Regions from separate parts of the Homo sapiens genome. Here region 2 is linked to region 1. Evidence: fine-mapped expression QTL. Tissue or cell type: whole blood. Region 1 holds a variant in brackets; the other region holds the start of a gene. All regions are shown on one strand. Distances are between the middles of the regions.

Region 1 (8,107 bases):
AAAATTGGGAGGAGAGAGCTGAGATTTTAAAAATTCTATTTACCCAGCATTCCAAAGCAGAAGACACTGAGCTGCTTTAAACTTTGGGCATTTCTTTTGTGCTAGGCTGAATGCTCTTCCAGCCTCATCACACTTAATTCTTATGCTGACCCTTTAAATATGATGTTATTGATGTTAAATATTATAATATCCCTATTTCACAGATCCCCCTGCTTCACAGGAAACAAAAGCATAGAGATACTAACTAACTCAAGCAAGTGGCCTAGCTGGGATCTGAACCCAGGCTTCATAACCACTCTATGAGATAGATGTTGTCTTTACTATTTTACAAATGAAGATACTAAATTTCAGAGAGGTTATGTAATTTGCTCAAACACACAGGTAGGAGATTACAGACCCCGGGTTCAGACCTGAGTGTTCAAAATCCCAAATATCAACCTCTTAACCACTGCCTCTTGGATCCTTCAGGAGGAAGAGCAACTGGGAACCCACAACTGACCGCTATTACCTGATCCCCAGTCCTAGCCTGGGCGGAAAGTTTCATATAACTTGAGACGGTGCGCGTGGGGAAAACGTAAAGCTCCCGTTCAGGGCTGCTCCTGCGCGGAAGCTGCGTGGGCTAGGAGAAGGAGGCTCCGCCGGGCATCGCGAGCCAGACAGGGAGCTCCGTCTGTCGTGCGGCCCACAGGGCTCCGCTCGAAGCCAGCGTGCGGGCGCTGGGACAAGGAGTGAGGGCAGCCACGGGGGGAACTCGCCCTGCACAAAGCTCCAGTGCCAGTGGTGTAGCTGCTGCCTCCGGGCATCAGTTACCTCGTCCTGCCAAGCTCCGGGACTTGGGTGTGTAGGGGAGGGCTGGAGCCATCCACCCGGTCCGCATCTGAGCCACAGCCCTTCACAGGAGTGGGAAGGTCACGCGCGCTCTAGGAGGCCCAGAGCCCTGGTCAGCGCTGGGAAGCCCGGTCCCCAGGTTTCTCTGCCCACCCCCAGACCTCGGCTTTTGGCCGCGGCGCTGGAGTTTACCATCAACGTGTTCACATGCTTCTCATCCTACGGAGTCGCCCGGATCAGCCTTTAACAGACTGACTTATCCGCGTTTCTAACGTGGCACCGCGACCCTGACCCTTGGCGCCTCTACCAGGCCTAAAGAAAGAACTTGCAAGCTGGGCATGGGAGGATGGAAGTCAAATATCAATCTACCGGGCAGGCCTTCCGCAGCAAACTGATTGCTCTTGCATTAAACCTGGGGTGGGGGTGGGAGGTGCGCGGTGCGGGCTGGGAAAGAGGGAAGGGATGACTGCCTTTCCTTCCATTTCTCCCTAGAAACTTCGGGAAATCCTCAGCCCTCGCTGGGTCACTTGGAAAGTGGGTTCACAATACAGTTCCCAGTTTTCTAATGAGGAAGCAAAGGCAGTGTTAGTAACAATAGGCAGCTCTGAAATGGGCATTTAGTATGTACCAAGCGTTGTTCTCTGCTTGCTAAGTATCACCTCAGCACTAACTTTATGAAAAGGGTCCCTTTAATGCTCTCAGTTCACAGATGAAAGACTGAAGTATAGACCAGTTAAATTACCTGAGTGGGGAGGGCTGGGATTCGAAGCCATGCAGTCCTGGTTCCCCTGTGGAATTGTGGGCTTTCCTGAGCCTGAATTGTTGGTCCTTCTTCTTGGGTCAGTTCTCCAGACTTCTAAGGAGAATGTTCATTAATGAAGGCATTGAGACCATCTCGTGTCCAAGACTGAAATGAAACTAGCCCTGGCTCTTGGAAGTGATCCCTTACCATCTGCTCAGCAACTGGCTTTCCAAAGCGCGTTCGCCCTCGTTCCCTTAGAGTCCTCACTGCGATCCGGGAGGCAGCTCTTGCCAGCTTTTGTTCAACCGGAGGAAAACCAAGGCTGAGCTAGGTCATCGGCAGCCCAGCTAGTAAGAAATGGGAACACAGGCTCCTGCCCTGCTAAACGAGATCAGGCGACCAGCTGGTCGAGGTCGTGCACAGAGGCAGGGAGAGAGGGTGGTGGAAAGAGTGTTAGGTTCCCGCAGGCCCCGCCCTTGGAACGCCTTTCCGCAGGTTAAGTGGTCACCTAGCGGGAAGCAAGTGATGGCACTAATTGCCGGTGGAAGGCTAAAGAACATGGGAAATGTGGCGGGCCCTTGGGAACTGCATTTCCTCCCTGCTTCGCCCAGGGCTCATTTGGAGCGTACCAAGCGCACCGCTTGGCCCCACACTGCCCCACATTCACGGTTTGCGCACTGTGCGTCTACAAGGGCGACGCCGGGCAGACGATGGCTTGTTTTGTTCTGCCCTGGTAGCCTCCTGTGTCAGGGCTCTGCACTCTTTGGTGAATCAGCTCAAACGATGTGATCTGTGTCTGCGCCTCCTGATACTGTGGGGGCGTTACTCTCCTTGGATCTCTCCCAGGGAAACCCGGTTTGCCAACATTGAAGTCCGTGATTTGGCCTTCTCTGCACTCTTAGTTCTGTCGCTGTACCTTTCACTAAGACATGGGCACCGGACAATCTAGACATCAGGAAGTGTCCGAGTCTAGCAGGCACTTCTGTGCCTTGTCTTGCTTCCCAAACTTAGGACTCAAACTCAGCTGTGTGGGGCCTTGAGGAGGAGCAGCTAATTCAGTCCCCCAGGTTAGAAATGAAACTCGTTGCATTCGGTGCATTGGCATTGGCTTTCTCGAGGATATTTTCACAAGTTTAGGGGAACCCCACTTATCTGGAACATAGATGTCTTAGGACTTCAGTAAACTGACTCTAGAATATAGATAATGCTGTGGGATAGTTGATCACACACACAAGATATTAGATAGTAACATTATACTCAGGAAATATATTCTTTATAGCTATTCAATTTGCTCCCTTGGGACCAATTGCTGTCCTGTATGACTTCACACAAACTATTTTCTCAAAACCACCCTACATGAAAACATCCAAAAAAGAGCACTGGCTACTTAATGGACAAGCATCCAAGTAAAATGACAGTCCTAAAACTTATTTTTAATTGCTGCCTTTGACAACATTCACCCCAACCTTCTTAAACACACACCCATACCCATATATGCATAGAGGACAATTTCTGCTCAGGTATAAAGTTATTCAGGCCTAAGTTAAATTCTAGGCCTAGCAAATCTCAACATCTAGGTCATTATATTCAACATGTTTATTCTTAGGAATGTATGAGTGTTTTATTTAGCAATTCCGGGTATTATTTCTTTGAAAAATATGAGTTTTCCTTTAAACTTCCTTAAAAGGAGATTATGAATAATACCACGGTTACTATATTACAGATACTATCAAATCAGCCTGGGAAGCATCTTTTCGCTCAGCAAGTTCAAGAGAACAAATATGTTACAATCCTTGCCTATTCTTGCCTCCACTTCATAATGTAAGTCCAGAAGTGTTTATAGTAATAATGATGTTGCTGCATTTGTGACATGTTGATCTTTGAATTTTTTTAAGGAGACCACCTTTCCAAGTATTAGCAGTGAGGAAAGACTTACATTGGTAGCTTTCAAGTGTTTTTGAAAATCTTCTGAAAACTAACACCT[C/T]TTCATATAATGTTTTGGGAGACATCCCCCATTGATGCTAAATTAATACCCCTGGATTAAATCATAGAACACCTGGGATTAATTGAACTGAAATCATGAAAGATAGTTTTCACTCAGAGTTCAGTTGGCAATATGAGCAAGGGAGCAGTTTGGGAGCATAATTTGTGAAGAAATTGAACCATATTTCCAATACTCTTTAATACAAGGTAAATCACCACTATTGTGGTTCCTAACTGGTATCCGCTTCTCAAATACTCTTTGTCTCTCTCTTTCTTCCTTTCTTTTTACTTTCTTTCTCTCGCTTCTCTTTTCCTGGAGAAAATGAAATGTCTCTCTCTTCAGGCCTCAGGAAAGTGTACCATGGGTTTATTCCAAGTACTGGACATTTGTGTCCCCTGCCTAGACCTCTTTCCCAGAAGAGCCATGCTTTCTGCTGCTTTTTCCCCAGCAGCCCGAATTCTTACAGTCCATACCTCAGAAAGCTAACTGGGATTAGATGTCAAGGAGTGTAGTCTGCCCAGGATATATATGCTGTGTGTCTATCGTTGCCTCTTTATTTAACTCAGGAATTACAATCCACCTAAAACAGAGAAGAAAAGGGTGGCACACAGGTACTGAATTGGGATGATGTCCATTCTCCTGGCTGTGTGAAGAAATTTGATGTAAAGCCTCTCAATGTTGTCACATTCCCAAGGCCTAGAGTTAGACTTCTCAAAATTTCATTTGAGACTGCTGGACACCAATTTGAGACTGCTAGACATCCCCTGATCTGCAGTCTGCCTAAAAATCCTGACCCAGAGGGTAAGGAGGTTCAGAGTGACTGATGGAGAACTGGCTACAACCAGTCAACCCCCTTCACACTGAGATGCGTTCAAAGGGTGTGGTGTCTGAGTCTAGGAAGGACTTTGGAACCTACAGATTTGACAAAAATCCAAGCCTTTTCTTGCCAGATCTTTACACACTCATCTGGGGAAGAGTATAACATTTGGGAGAACCCAGGGGGTTGAAATAGTGGATATTGGATTTGGTTCAGAGGTCACACTCACACAGATGAGTATGGGGCACTGATTTCATATCTGTTGGTAGTTGTGCACAATGTCACTTCGGTTTGCTAGCCCTTCTAAAAGTCATACTCAGAGGCCATTAAGCCAGTTCACTACAACCCAGATCCAGGAGAGGAAGATAATAACATACAGCTTTCAAAGACTATCCCATTCTCAGCTGAACTCCAACACAAGTGTAAGTAAAACTTGGGAATGGCTAAGAGAGAAAGTTTTAAACTTGAGAAAGGTAGATTATCATTGTAATGATAATGGTGGTAGTAGTAGCTGCAGGAGCAGCAGGATTAAAAGCAGGATCATTTACGAGGAAAAGCCCAAGAGAGAAAAGTATGAGTCAGAAGTAATGATCCCTACAGTTGGGAGCCTGAAGTCCTTCCTCACAGGCTACAAAATTACCCAACCCTGAGTCTCTGGCTTTCCCAGGGCCAGCCTGGAAAACATTTGCTCATGTAATACCCAGTGAGCCAACTACAATACTTAGGGTGAGGAACAGACCTAAACTGAGTTTGCAATGTATACTTATAAAAAACGAGTAGCCCTTCCCACACCCCACCCCCTCACATCATCCTTTACCCAACTCAGCAAGCATGGCTCTTCTCGACTCACCAAAATGTAAAACAAACAAACAAACCCCTCTGGGTCTTTTTAAAAACCCACCATGTATCTTTCTCTTGATAAAGGCAAAGTGGTAGAAAATGAGTTAACAACCCTCTGAACAACATTTTTGGCACAGGCCTGGTGTTTTTCTTAATTGACCAGCCCATCATTTCTGTTTCTCTTTCATGTACAAGTAGTCAGTAAAGTTTATCCCTTAAAAAGTTCCTTATTCTGAATGGTGAGGCTAGGTAATACAATACTCCTCCTTGAAGATCTATTCTCTTCCTCCCTCAACCCTCACAGCCCCTTCCAGAGACCTCCCTGTGGGAAATTAATAAGCTTAGGAAGGAGCTGCCACTGTCTGCTCCATTGGCATCCTCTTATCTTCCAGTGTGTGGGTTTTTTCCCCCCCTTTCACCATGAATTGCCATACTCTTTTGACAATCAAGCCTTTGCTGGCATAGTGCTTTGGCAATAGAGTTAGAGGTGGGTAAGCCAGGACCTAGAAAGATATAGAAAAAGAAAATCAGTGTGTTTTCATTCTCATGGGATAATAATCTTTACGTGAATTATTCTTGGAGATGTTACCTGCCTCTTATCACAGAAGTTGAAATATTTTGGGCTCCATTTTTGAACCCTGGGAAGAGAAAGAGTGTTCCCATTCTAATACTCCCTAAGAATTAAAATTCCCTTTCTTACCCTTTCTCCACCCTCTCACTTAGGTCATAAAAGCCACCTGGGGTGTCATTTATCAACCTCTCTCCAGCCCACTCTTCCAAAATAACACTACAGTTTCCTACATGTGTATTTTTGCCAGGACTCCAAAGAGCCTTGCTAAAGTGGAACAAGGTGAGCATACCCACTCTTCATTGTCATTCTTCTAATTACTTAATTGGAAATAAAATCCTAGGGAAGAGAGCTCCAAATATATGCATAAACCCATTGTTCCATATGAATTACATAAAACTATTGACTAGGTACACTTTTATAGTACTGTCTGAGGCTGAATAAATGCCTCAACCCTTCATTTAGTATCAGTGAATTCCAGTAAGTATTAATGCAGAGTGATTTCAAAGTAGTTTATGTACCATTTTAGCCCATAAATTTCTACAGAAATAAAAATAATTTGTAGATTTTCTTTATCCCCTATTAATTATTGTCATTTAGGACATTTATATTACCAAGCAAAATGTGTACCACTTAAATTACTAGAAAACTCTTCAAGTAAGAATTTCGACTTAATCTTACTTATATTGTTTTGTTATGTCAGTTATTTAACTCATAATAAAAAGGGTAGGTCAGATTCATAAAATGTGAGAAATTCTTATATTTAAGGATCTCTACCTGAAAGCAGTAGGAAAAAAATTAATTAGAGGGCAAAAAAGTGAAACTGAAATGAAGCATCTGTTGGCCAGATTCTCAATAAATTGCTCCCTTCTCAGATGTATAAAATTGTCGCTGTTTTCTAGCTTAAGACATAAAAAGGTCAAGCTGTTCCACCCTCAACTTAAGTACCAAAAACATTATTTTATACAAACTGGAGTCAAGGTTTTAGTACCTCAAAAGAAATATAGTTTAAATGGTCTCTGTATTTAATAAGAGAAAGGCCAGGCACAAGAAAAATGCCTTCCATTTAGAGTTTATTTTCTAAATGTCCACATTCTGGAGTAGAGGCTTACATATTTACAATATGTAAGATAATTTTTTAATGGTTTGCATGGACAGATGACTTTTCCTGAAAGATAAAATTCCAATTCTCTAAATAACAGCAAAAGAAAGCATTAAGGAGTGTTCTGTTAGACAGATTAATGAAATTATGTTCTTAAACACTGCTCCTCACACACCATATTGCATTTATCAGTCTAGTTTCTAAGGGACCACATGACTCTCTTATGGCTACTTTTCTTTCTTAACTTGAAGTTGTTTACACCCGTGCCTCTTCTGCTCTTTATTTTTCTTCTTTCTTCTACTCTGAATTAACTTAAGTTTCTGGCCACTATTCTTCAAACCTGAGGTTTATTTTCCAGATGTTTGAGACATTATTTTCACATTTCTAATGCTTCCACCCATTCTTTAAAGAAGTATTAGGGGACCATGTGTCCATACTTTGTGTGTGTGTGTGTGTGTGTGTTTGTGTGTGTGTAGAGAGAGAGAGAGACTGAGAAGTGAATCTAGTATTCAATGGAGCAATCAGTCAGAAGACAATTGGTAGCTCAGTATAGCTGCAGATTCTTACATACAGGCATGTGAGAGAGCCCTCATTGCACTGAGCCTTGGTCATTAGGAGCCAACCTTAGCCGAAGTAGATAAAATTGCACATAGCCAAAGTACATAAAACTGCACTTCAAGAAGCTTTCTTTGAAAAGTCAGTAGCTAACCTGAAAACTAAGGGATTCCCCATTTTCTCTGAATATATGGGGATTTTGCAGCCCTTCCTTCTGTGAATTTCAGCTTAATTCTAGGCAGCAATTCGGAATTTGCCTGGGGTACTAACCAGAAAAGAGAAGGAAATACACACACACACACACACACACACACAGAGAGAGAGAGAGAGAGAGAGAGAGAGAGAACAAGGAAGAACATGAACTTCATGGGAAAGTCCTTGCACTTGTTTCTCCTCAGCAAAATCCTCCCCTGGCCTCCTGGGACTGCAGTCACCAGGCTGTCAAAGCCTCAATACCCCACTGAGTTCCAGAGAAGGGTCTCAAAGCTGGGAGAGGATCAAACTAACATGGTAAGCTGCTCTTTGCCAACTCCCCAAATACATTATTTCAACACTAGGAAAAACAACAACGAGGCTGTCTCCTTACGTTGTGGTTCTGCCTCCTCCACTTTAGCTAGCTACACAATCCGATTTATCCTAATGCTGACAGATTGCCCACTTCAAAGTAGTGG
Region 2 (8,107 bases), 120 kb before region 1:
GAAAAAGACACCTTTTAAAAAACACTAAGGAGATTAAATAGATAGGTAGATAGATATAGAGATATATTGGTATACATATTGATATATACTAAGTTCCCTTATAAAGGTGAATATATTCAGCATTAATGGACCTCAGAGAAAGACCAGAAATCCAGGATGTCTACTGAATCTAGGAAATTATCCAAAAGGATCCATATCTTTCTCCCCCTCAATGTTCTTCAAATTCCTGGTTGATTAATATATTATATCTAAACAAGAAAAATGTAGAACTACTTACAGTAACAGAGAGGCCGGGGAAGGTAGGAAGTGGTGAATATACAACTAAGACAGGGATCTAGATTTCACTGCACATTCCACAGCCACTATAAATGATATTGATTTTCAGATTAACTGCTCTTTTATATTACTCATACCTCCTTTCCCTTCTATTAGAGAACTGAATTGTCTGTGCATCTGCTTGATTCCACTGAGAGGCCTGAATCACCACTTGGAAATATCAATCATGCCTTTAAAATTCATCTCTACTAAAAGCCTGCAGTGAAATGATAATGCACTAACCTGTCTCCAGTTAATGGCAAAATAATAGTTGCTTGAGAAGAAAACACAATGAAAGATAATCTCATTTCAGGGCTGCAAAATAAGAAAAGAGGCAGTTAAAACATTTTTAAAAAGAAATATTGATACGATACAGATGTATAGTTAGGGAGGTTCATTTAAAATTGGTCTCACTGAATGGTCCAGGCTTCTTTTAAATGACATTCCCTAAGTAAATAGACGAACTCTGCTTAACATTGTTGCATAAGTCATTTTGGATTTAGTCAACGCTTCCCAGCACTCACATACTCCTCCATGACCCATAAGGACTTGCATTTAGAGAGAGACTAACTGGAAAGATAAATTCTAAGCTGATGTAAAATTCTTTCGTAGAAAATTCCTCTTCCCTTGGTTTTCTACAACATTTCCTTTAAAGGTGGCCAGGCCCTTCAAAGTGATTATGGTTATCAACACTTATGGGTGGAGAGTACCCAGTTTGACTTAATGACCATAACTATGATATGAGTCTATAAAAAAGTCATCCTGAAGTAAGACTACTTAAAGAGTCATGGAAAATGTGAAAGAAACAATAAATCACTTTCTGCTTAGGCATTTTTTATTTTCTAAGTCTCAAACATGCTATTTTCCATTGGCAACAAGTGCCCCAGTCAGCTATATCTTTCAAGTTTTAGGCATGTCTCTCACAGAACGGTTCTTGCTTCTCGGACACTCTCTGCAACTACTACTAAGATTCAAAACTGAAGATATGAAACTAGAATCTATAAACTGAAAATCAGAATCCTCTCAAAGGCTTATACATATTTTAAAAGTCAGTCTCTTCATTAGTCACCCCTTATTCACTTCCTACAATGTATTGTTAGTAATTGAGCAACTAGGCTTGAGCCAGACAACTGTGTATTATAGAATTCCAACTTAAAAACCAGATCAATGAGTTAAGATAAGAGCTTGCTTCTTTAAAATGTTGTAGTGATGTGATTCATTGCTTTTGATCAAAATCTACATGACACCCTTTTCACATTGAAGGATTAAATTAGAAAATTTATAAACAACTGTCTGTTCTGCCTTTGACATTTAGGGACATAGGATCTTGTTTGTTTTTCTTTCCTAGACAGTTTTACCTCAGACCCTGTCCAGAAATGAGTGTTAAACTTGGCTTCTTAAGCAAGGGACTGATGATTGAACATGGACAGGCATACATTTTTATAGGGATAACTTTACTGCTGCCAATAACTGAAAGCAAGGATTGCCTAGGCCTCTACAGATTGTTTGAAGTTACTTGCAACATGACTTTCAAAATGTTTTGATCATCCAAGCCTGTTTTACAGAAAACATTTGGGCTAACAAGACTGAAAGAAGCAATATTTAATGATACAGTTCCTATTCATGTCCTTTCCATTATCTTGATAAACTTGTGTTTGCTCATTGCATTTTTTCTTTAAAAAAAAAAGAAGGAAAAAAAAAGCCTCAAAAGCCTAGTGTCCTGAGGTTATTTTTAAATAGGAGATGCCACTAATTCCTAGTTACCTCTAAATAAGAGAGTAAGCTGGATTTCATACCAGTAATGCTTTTTATAGGAGAGGAAACCAGTCTTTCCTGGTGATGCTTATTGCATATATAGAACAGTTAAATTTTAAACCAACCACACACCCACACATTGTGTAAACACAAGTCGTTGCTTTAAACACACACACAAGTGCCTTTTCTGGTAGCGGGTTATTAACACATGTTCATTTGAAGTTTTCCAACACTTTTTGTTTGTTTTAATGAGGGCCTCTATAATGCTAAGAAATGTGTGGAAAGAAAAATATATTATGGATACTATTCGCATAAAATTTATTTTTTTAATGTGATAAATTATGAGAAAGCATAACTGAAATTCAAAACAGATGAAAATTCGGAAAGAAAAAGACATTTGGAATAGTATTTGAAGATGCTTCCCCAGAGTCTGAGCCAAGTTTCTGGGATCCAGATGAAATAAGCCCTCAAGGACTGAAGGGCTGTCCTAATAACAGCATGTGTGCAATACGACCTTGAGGCACTTAAAAGTAACATTTCAGGAAAAGTTTTTCCTATAAAAGGTTTCAGAAAAGGGAAATTCTACACTTTGCTCTACTTCTCCACTGCCTAGAAAAGTAAAGTAAGAAAGATACCTCACAAATCTCTCCGCAAGTTGCTGTACGAAATTATAAATTTCAATCCAGTTATTTGCCACACTCCCAGACCTGAAAGATGAAATTGAACTGATCAGAGAAACAAAACACGGAACTGAAAAGTAAACATTTTGAAATGGTTCCTTCTTCAATGCCACGAACATAGGGGCACCTGGCCTCTTTTTCAAGCTAAGTAAGGGTATCTGTAGCTGAAACTTTGGTGGTACCCAGAGTTAAAGAAGTCAGTCCCAGAGCAAGACTCCGTCAAAAAAAAAAAGAAGAAGAAGAAGTCAGCCCGTTTTCTGGGGTGGGTAAATACCTGCCTAATTGTTTAGAGTGGAACCCAGCTCTTCAGAGTAAACACAAAAGCCTTTCTTCGCAGGAAATGCAAACCACATTGGGCATGTTAACCCTAGGCTTTTCCTGGCTCCAATGAAAGCGCTATGATTAGGATAAAACCAGGCAAACTTTAGCCTGCGTACGAGCAGGGTCGAGGAGGTGGGTAAGGACTCTGTGGCCGATGGAGCGTGGCCCGCAAGAGGCCACACTCCCATTTCCCAAGAGGCCAAAAGACTGGCAAACAGTGAATACCCCAACTCCCCAAAGAGCCAAGTAGCCCGGGGCTCCAATCACTACCCCCGACCCGGCTGATCTCCGCCCACACAGATCCGAACGCGCTTGCCCTTTGAAAGAAGACAGCAACAGGGCACCCCTCCGCGGGTTTCCAACACCACTCCCCGGGGTGCGCACACGCATCTCAGCCTCAGCCCCAGCTGATCCAGTGCCGCCCTCACCAGGAGACCCTGGACCTCCCTCGCACACTCACTTGTCCAGGACGAAGTAGAGATCAAAGGCTCTTCTGCAGGAGGGCTGCTCCTGGGCGCGCAGCAGCCCCCCGGGACCGCTGAGCACCAACAGCCACAGCCCGGGGAACAGCCAGCTCCCGGGGCTGCGGGCCGGGGACCGCTCCGCCACCATCCTGCGGCCGGGGGCCTGAGACTCCCTCCCGCTCGCAGTCCCCTAAGCTCAGGAGGGTCGCAAAGGTGGCGGGAGTCACCCGGCACGCACTCTGGGGTGGGGGGCGGCGAGCAGCTGAGACGCCGGCGCCTGCGGCAGCGGGACCCACCAGCTGACAGGGAGGGAGAGAGGGAGGTCCTGAGAGGACAAAGGGAGTCTCCGCCACCGCCGCAGCTGCCGCCGGAACTCTTGACGAATCCCAGTGGAAGCGCGATCCAGTCCTCCCCCTCCCGATTCCGGAGAGTTCCTGCAGACAATGCGGGCCCACGGCGACAGCTCGCGAAAGGAGTTCCTCTCCGGCCTGGGGCCGAGCCTCCAGCGCCCGCCTCGGACCCGGACCTGGAACCCACCCCGCCTGGAGGGCTGAAGTCCCCCCCGCTGCCGTGCGCTTCGGGACAAGGGGTCCCTGGGACGCGGCGACGGCAGAACAAACTAGGAGTGGAGACTCTTCTCCTCCGGCGGCCCCAACTCCCTCCGCACTCCGAAACTTTCCTCCCGGTGCTGGACTCTGGCACTGCGCTGACAGGCCGTCCCCTTTAGGGGAGGAGGCTAGCTGGCCCTGGGACTCCCGGCTGGAGAGAAGCCACGCCGAGGGCAGGAGCCCGCTCGGGCCGGGTCTGGGCTGCGTGTGTCAGTGTGCGCCTGGGGACGAGGGCGGGGCCCCAGCTGAAGCCTCCGAGCCACACATGCACACTTGTGGGTTCCTGCCGAGTTGAAGATGACTAACGCTTGCCAGATTTGGGAAAGGGAAGAAGGAGTTTAGAAAAACAAAAGTTATCTAGAAACTAAACATACCCGTATGTCCTGCAGGCCTGGCCTATTTTAGCAGCTGTGCTAAAACAGCCCCCATGCGTGGTTCACAAACCCAAGACTAAGGATTCCATGGGAGGTGACGGCCTCCTCACTCCTCACTCCACCCCACCCCTACTACCACAAACACTCTTTATGAACTTCCTCTTTTTCTTCTAAAGAAACCTGCTTAGTTTTTTTTTTTTTTTTCTTTAAAAAAAGCCAAGCCAAGGAAAGGCCGGAGTGGGGAGTGGGAGGGGATAGCAGGCCTCTTTGGGAGTGGAAAGTTGTACCTCAAAATATTTCAGCCCACTGTCATTTCCCTGCAAGCTCCAGTTTTGGAGAATTTCAGCTTTGGGCAAGCTAGGTCTCCTTTGCAAAACTTGTGCAAGCACTCAAGTTTGTGCACAAATCCTCTGTCTACTAGTTCTGCTCTCCCTCCTCTCTCTTCCCCCCACCTCCGTGACTTCCGCCCTCCCTTAGTCAAAACTGGCTTTTAGAACCTAAATACCTTTTCATTTTTAACAAAATCAATGCTTTATGTAGTACTTACATATACATCTCTTCTGTTTGTTGCCATATGTATTTAACTTTTCATTTATTATATTTGATATACAACCAGATATGTCAGCTCTTTGAAGATAAAAATTAGTTACTTTAACAAAGATTCATTGAGTGCCTATTATTTGCTAGGCACTGTTCCAGAAGTGGAGGTTAGTGCACAGAACAAGATAACAAGCCCTTGCTTTCATGAAGCTGACAGTCTGGCTGAAGAGTGAAAACAGACAATAAGAAATAAATACATAAGCAAGGAAAAAAAATGTCCATATTGGAAAGGTGGCCTGTAGAAATTTAAAATATTGTGATGATAAAGAATGACAGACTCAGTGACTAACAAAAAAGACCCAGTCATTCCAAGAGCTCTAAGGGGAAACATTTGGAGTTACTGCAAAGGTCCATAGACATTAGCTTAGCATATTCAAAAAAGAAAAAAAAAAAACTGTGTAGCTGGAGCTTTGCAGGTAAGATGATGTAAGACAAATAGGCAAGGGCCAGATTATGTGATGCTTTGTTTACTGAGATAAGGAATTCAGATATTTAATATTGAGTGTGACAGGAGGTTATTAGAGGGGTTTAAGCCCAGGAGTGGAGTGGCAGATGAATTGATATGATCTGTGTTTTTCAAAGATCATTCTGGCTGCAATGAGACAATGAATTTGGAGTTAGCAACAGTGACAACAGGGAGAGCAGTTAGGAGACTATTGCAGTAGCAACATGTTGACAAACAATCCTGAGGTTCATAAATTTGGAAAGGAGAACTTCATTTCTTATAAAGGGTTACAGCTGCAGGCTGGACATCTTGACAGGCTGGGAAGTGTAGCCTCTGGCAGAGACAAAAAGCAGGCACTTTGAGGGAGGAAAGGGTGGAACAGGAATTTATGCTAAATGAGTTGGCCAAGTATACATATTCAACAGGTTATAGGAGGAACTATGAATATTTCTGAAGCAAGGGGTACATGAACTATGCATATTTCTGAAGCAGGTGGGTTAAGTTTCCACATCAAAGTGAACATGGGACATATGCAACATGCATGTTTAGTAAGCAAACATGAATAGTAAGCAAACATGCAAGTTGCATATGTCTCATGTTCACTTTGAGGTGGAGACTTAACAATTAAATGTATTATAATTAGGCCCTATATGTCAAAAGGTGAAACAGAAGACATGAAGGCACTCAGTGCCACAGCCTCTGTAAACCAGCCAGAACCAGTCTATGGTCAGTGGTCTCTTATCAGGAGAGTTATTAAAATCAGTCTCTTGTCCAGTCAGAGCTGTAGTTATGGCTTGTGGAACAGGGGTAGGGGTGGAGGATTAATTAGTTAGTGTCTTGCAGTCAGTAAGATGCAATTGTTTCAATATTGCTTATCTGGAGGCCAGTGTTTGTTTAGATGCTAGAGAAAAAGAAAACCCTTTTGGCAGTTAGAATATAGTTTATTTTTTAAGTGTAGGAGTGTGTGACTTGACCTTTGCCTGGCATGGTCTTAGGTCTTGTTTATAATTTGGTGTCTTATGAACACAGAGTACATTCTGTCAGTCTTATCATCTCTATTTTAACAAAGGCAAAATAAAATGGTACCTTGGACCATCATCACTATAGCAACTAACCTGAGAATTATGAATGGATGAAAACTTCAATATATACCGGCAGACCTCCATTTTGAAAATATGCTCATTACAAATGTCAAACATTGAATGGAGGGTGGCTAACATCCCTTCTCACTCTTTGCCAACTGGTCACTTGGGGATGGAAATTCCACCACTATCAACTGCATCAATCTGCCACTTTTTACCTGATGGAGTGAGGAAGATACTGAGGGGCAAGGGGCTAGCTAGATGGAAGATAACTTTTACTTTTGTAAGAAGGAAACATACAGCCTTCATAATTTTCAAATAATTAAGCACTAGAAGCAAGTCCTTAATTAGTCCTGAGACTAATTAAGAAAGTCCTTAAAGCACCTTAATTCTGTCCTCCTTGGCTTCATCTTTTCTTGAGGTTCTAAAATACTGATTACTTCTGCAGCCCTCCAGTCTCCAGGTATGTGTTGCCACTTCTCATTTCACATTTTGGTCCAACCTGAATACATAAATCTCCCTGACTTCCCATAAGAGAACTGAAACAGGCTGACATTTTCAGGAAATTTGTATCAACAGCTTGTTCATCTTTCAAGGTTTTGTATTCATTGCTGGTTGAAACTGGTTTCCATTTTCAACTTTAATCTTAAGACAGAATCAAAGATATTATATGCCACATCAGCATGTTATTGAATAAAATCTGGGGAAAAAATGTATCCCCCCAAAAAAGTGACAATTGGTTTCATGTTAGAAGGAGACAGAAGGCAAAGAAATATGAGACATGATACTAACCATGTACTCTGTCCTCCTAAGGAAGTATTTTAAACTCACATTTGTTGGTTTCCTTTATCCCTAGTCTTGACTAATTACCTGCTCATCTTCTGGGACTTCCCAAACTGGTCTAAGAATCCATCTTGTCCTAGGTTCAAACTAAAGCAAAATACCTCAATTTAAAACTCATTCTTCCTCAAAATTTCCAGGCCTTCTGAGAGTACTCCCACTCAGTTCTTCTTTCTTGAGTACAAGGCTGGCAGAGAATATTGACATACCAGAAAAATAGTAGCACTTTTTTGTTTATCTGTTTGCTTGGGTAAAGAATTCATCCCAGTCCTGGAGCATTTTGCATCTCACTGACTTGCTCATGTAAGATCTACAGCAAAGCAAAAAATGGCCTCAGACCAATAACTAATCAAATCACTTTCATTTAATAAAAATTAATCAGAAGATCATTAATTACTGGGGCAGCCAAGTGTCCTAATTTGTCACAGACTGAGGGGTGTCTTCAGTCTCATGGACATGGGACTTTCCATGCTAAAACTAGGGCAGTCCCTGGGATAGTTCCTGGCAAGCAAAACTGTTGGTCATTCTTTTCCTAAGCAATAATGAGGGAAGATGAAAGCAAAAGCAGACATGAAAATCTCTCCAAGCCATGAAAAAGAAGTGGTAGCAACAGCAGTACTTTC

Evidence for each region. PIP is the estimated chance that this variant, and not a neighbour inherited with it, causes the effect.
Region 2: it holds the start of ANTXR2, and the variant in region 1 is fine-mapped to the expression of ANTXR2 in whole blood (TOPMed, PIP 0.97).

What each region holds. Positions count from the first base shown.
Region 1 is chr4:80,188,179-80,196,285 of GRCh38, forward strand. It overlaps PRDM8-AS1 (PRDM8 antisense RNA 1), which reads right to left. Exons shown (of 6, transcript NR_183912.1): 3 at 4,028-4,134; 4 at 1,778-1,973; 5 at 1,571-1,681. It also overlaps a transcript of PRDM8 not described here. Among named protein-coding and RNA genes, the nearest start is that of PRDM8-AS1, 5.1 kb to the right of the region's middle. RefSeq lists enhancers at 1,679-2,195, 2,196-2,711, 7,935-8,107. The variant C/T (reference allele first, on the strand shown) is at 3,555.
Region 2 is chr4:80,068,878-80,076,984 of GRCh38, forward strand. It overlaps ANTXR2 (ANTXR cell adhesion molecule 2), which reads right to left and starts at 4,352. Exons shown (of 17, transcript NM_058172.6): 1 at 3,532-4,352; 2 at 2,706-2,777; 3 at 559-630. The coding sequence starts at 3,683. RefSeq lists a silencer at 3,642-3,801 and enhancers at 3,982-4,091, 4,422-4,701, 7,472-8,107.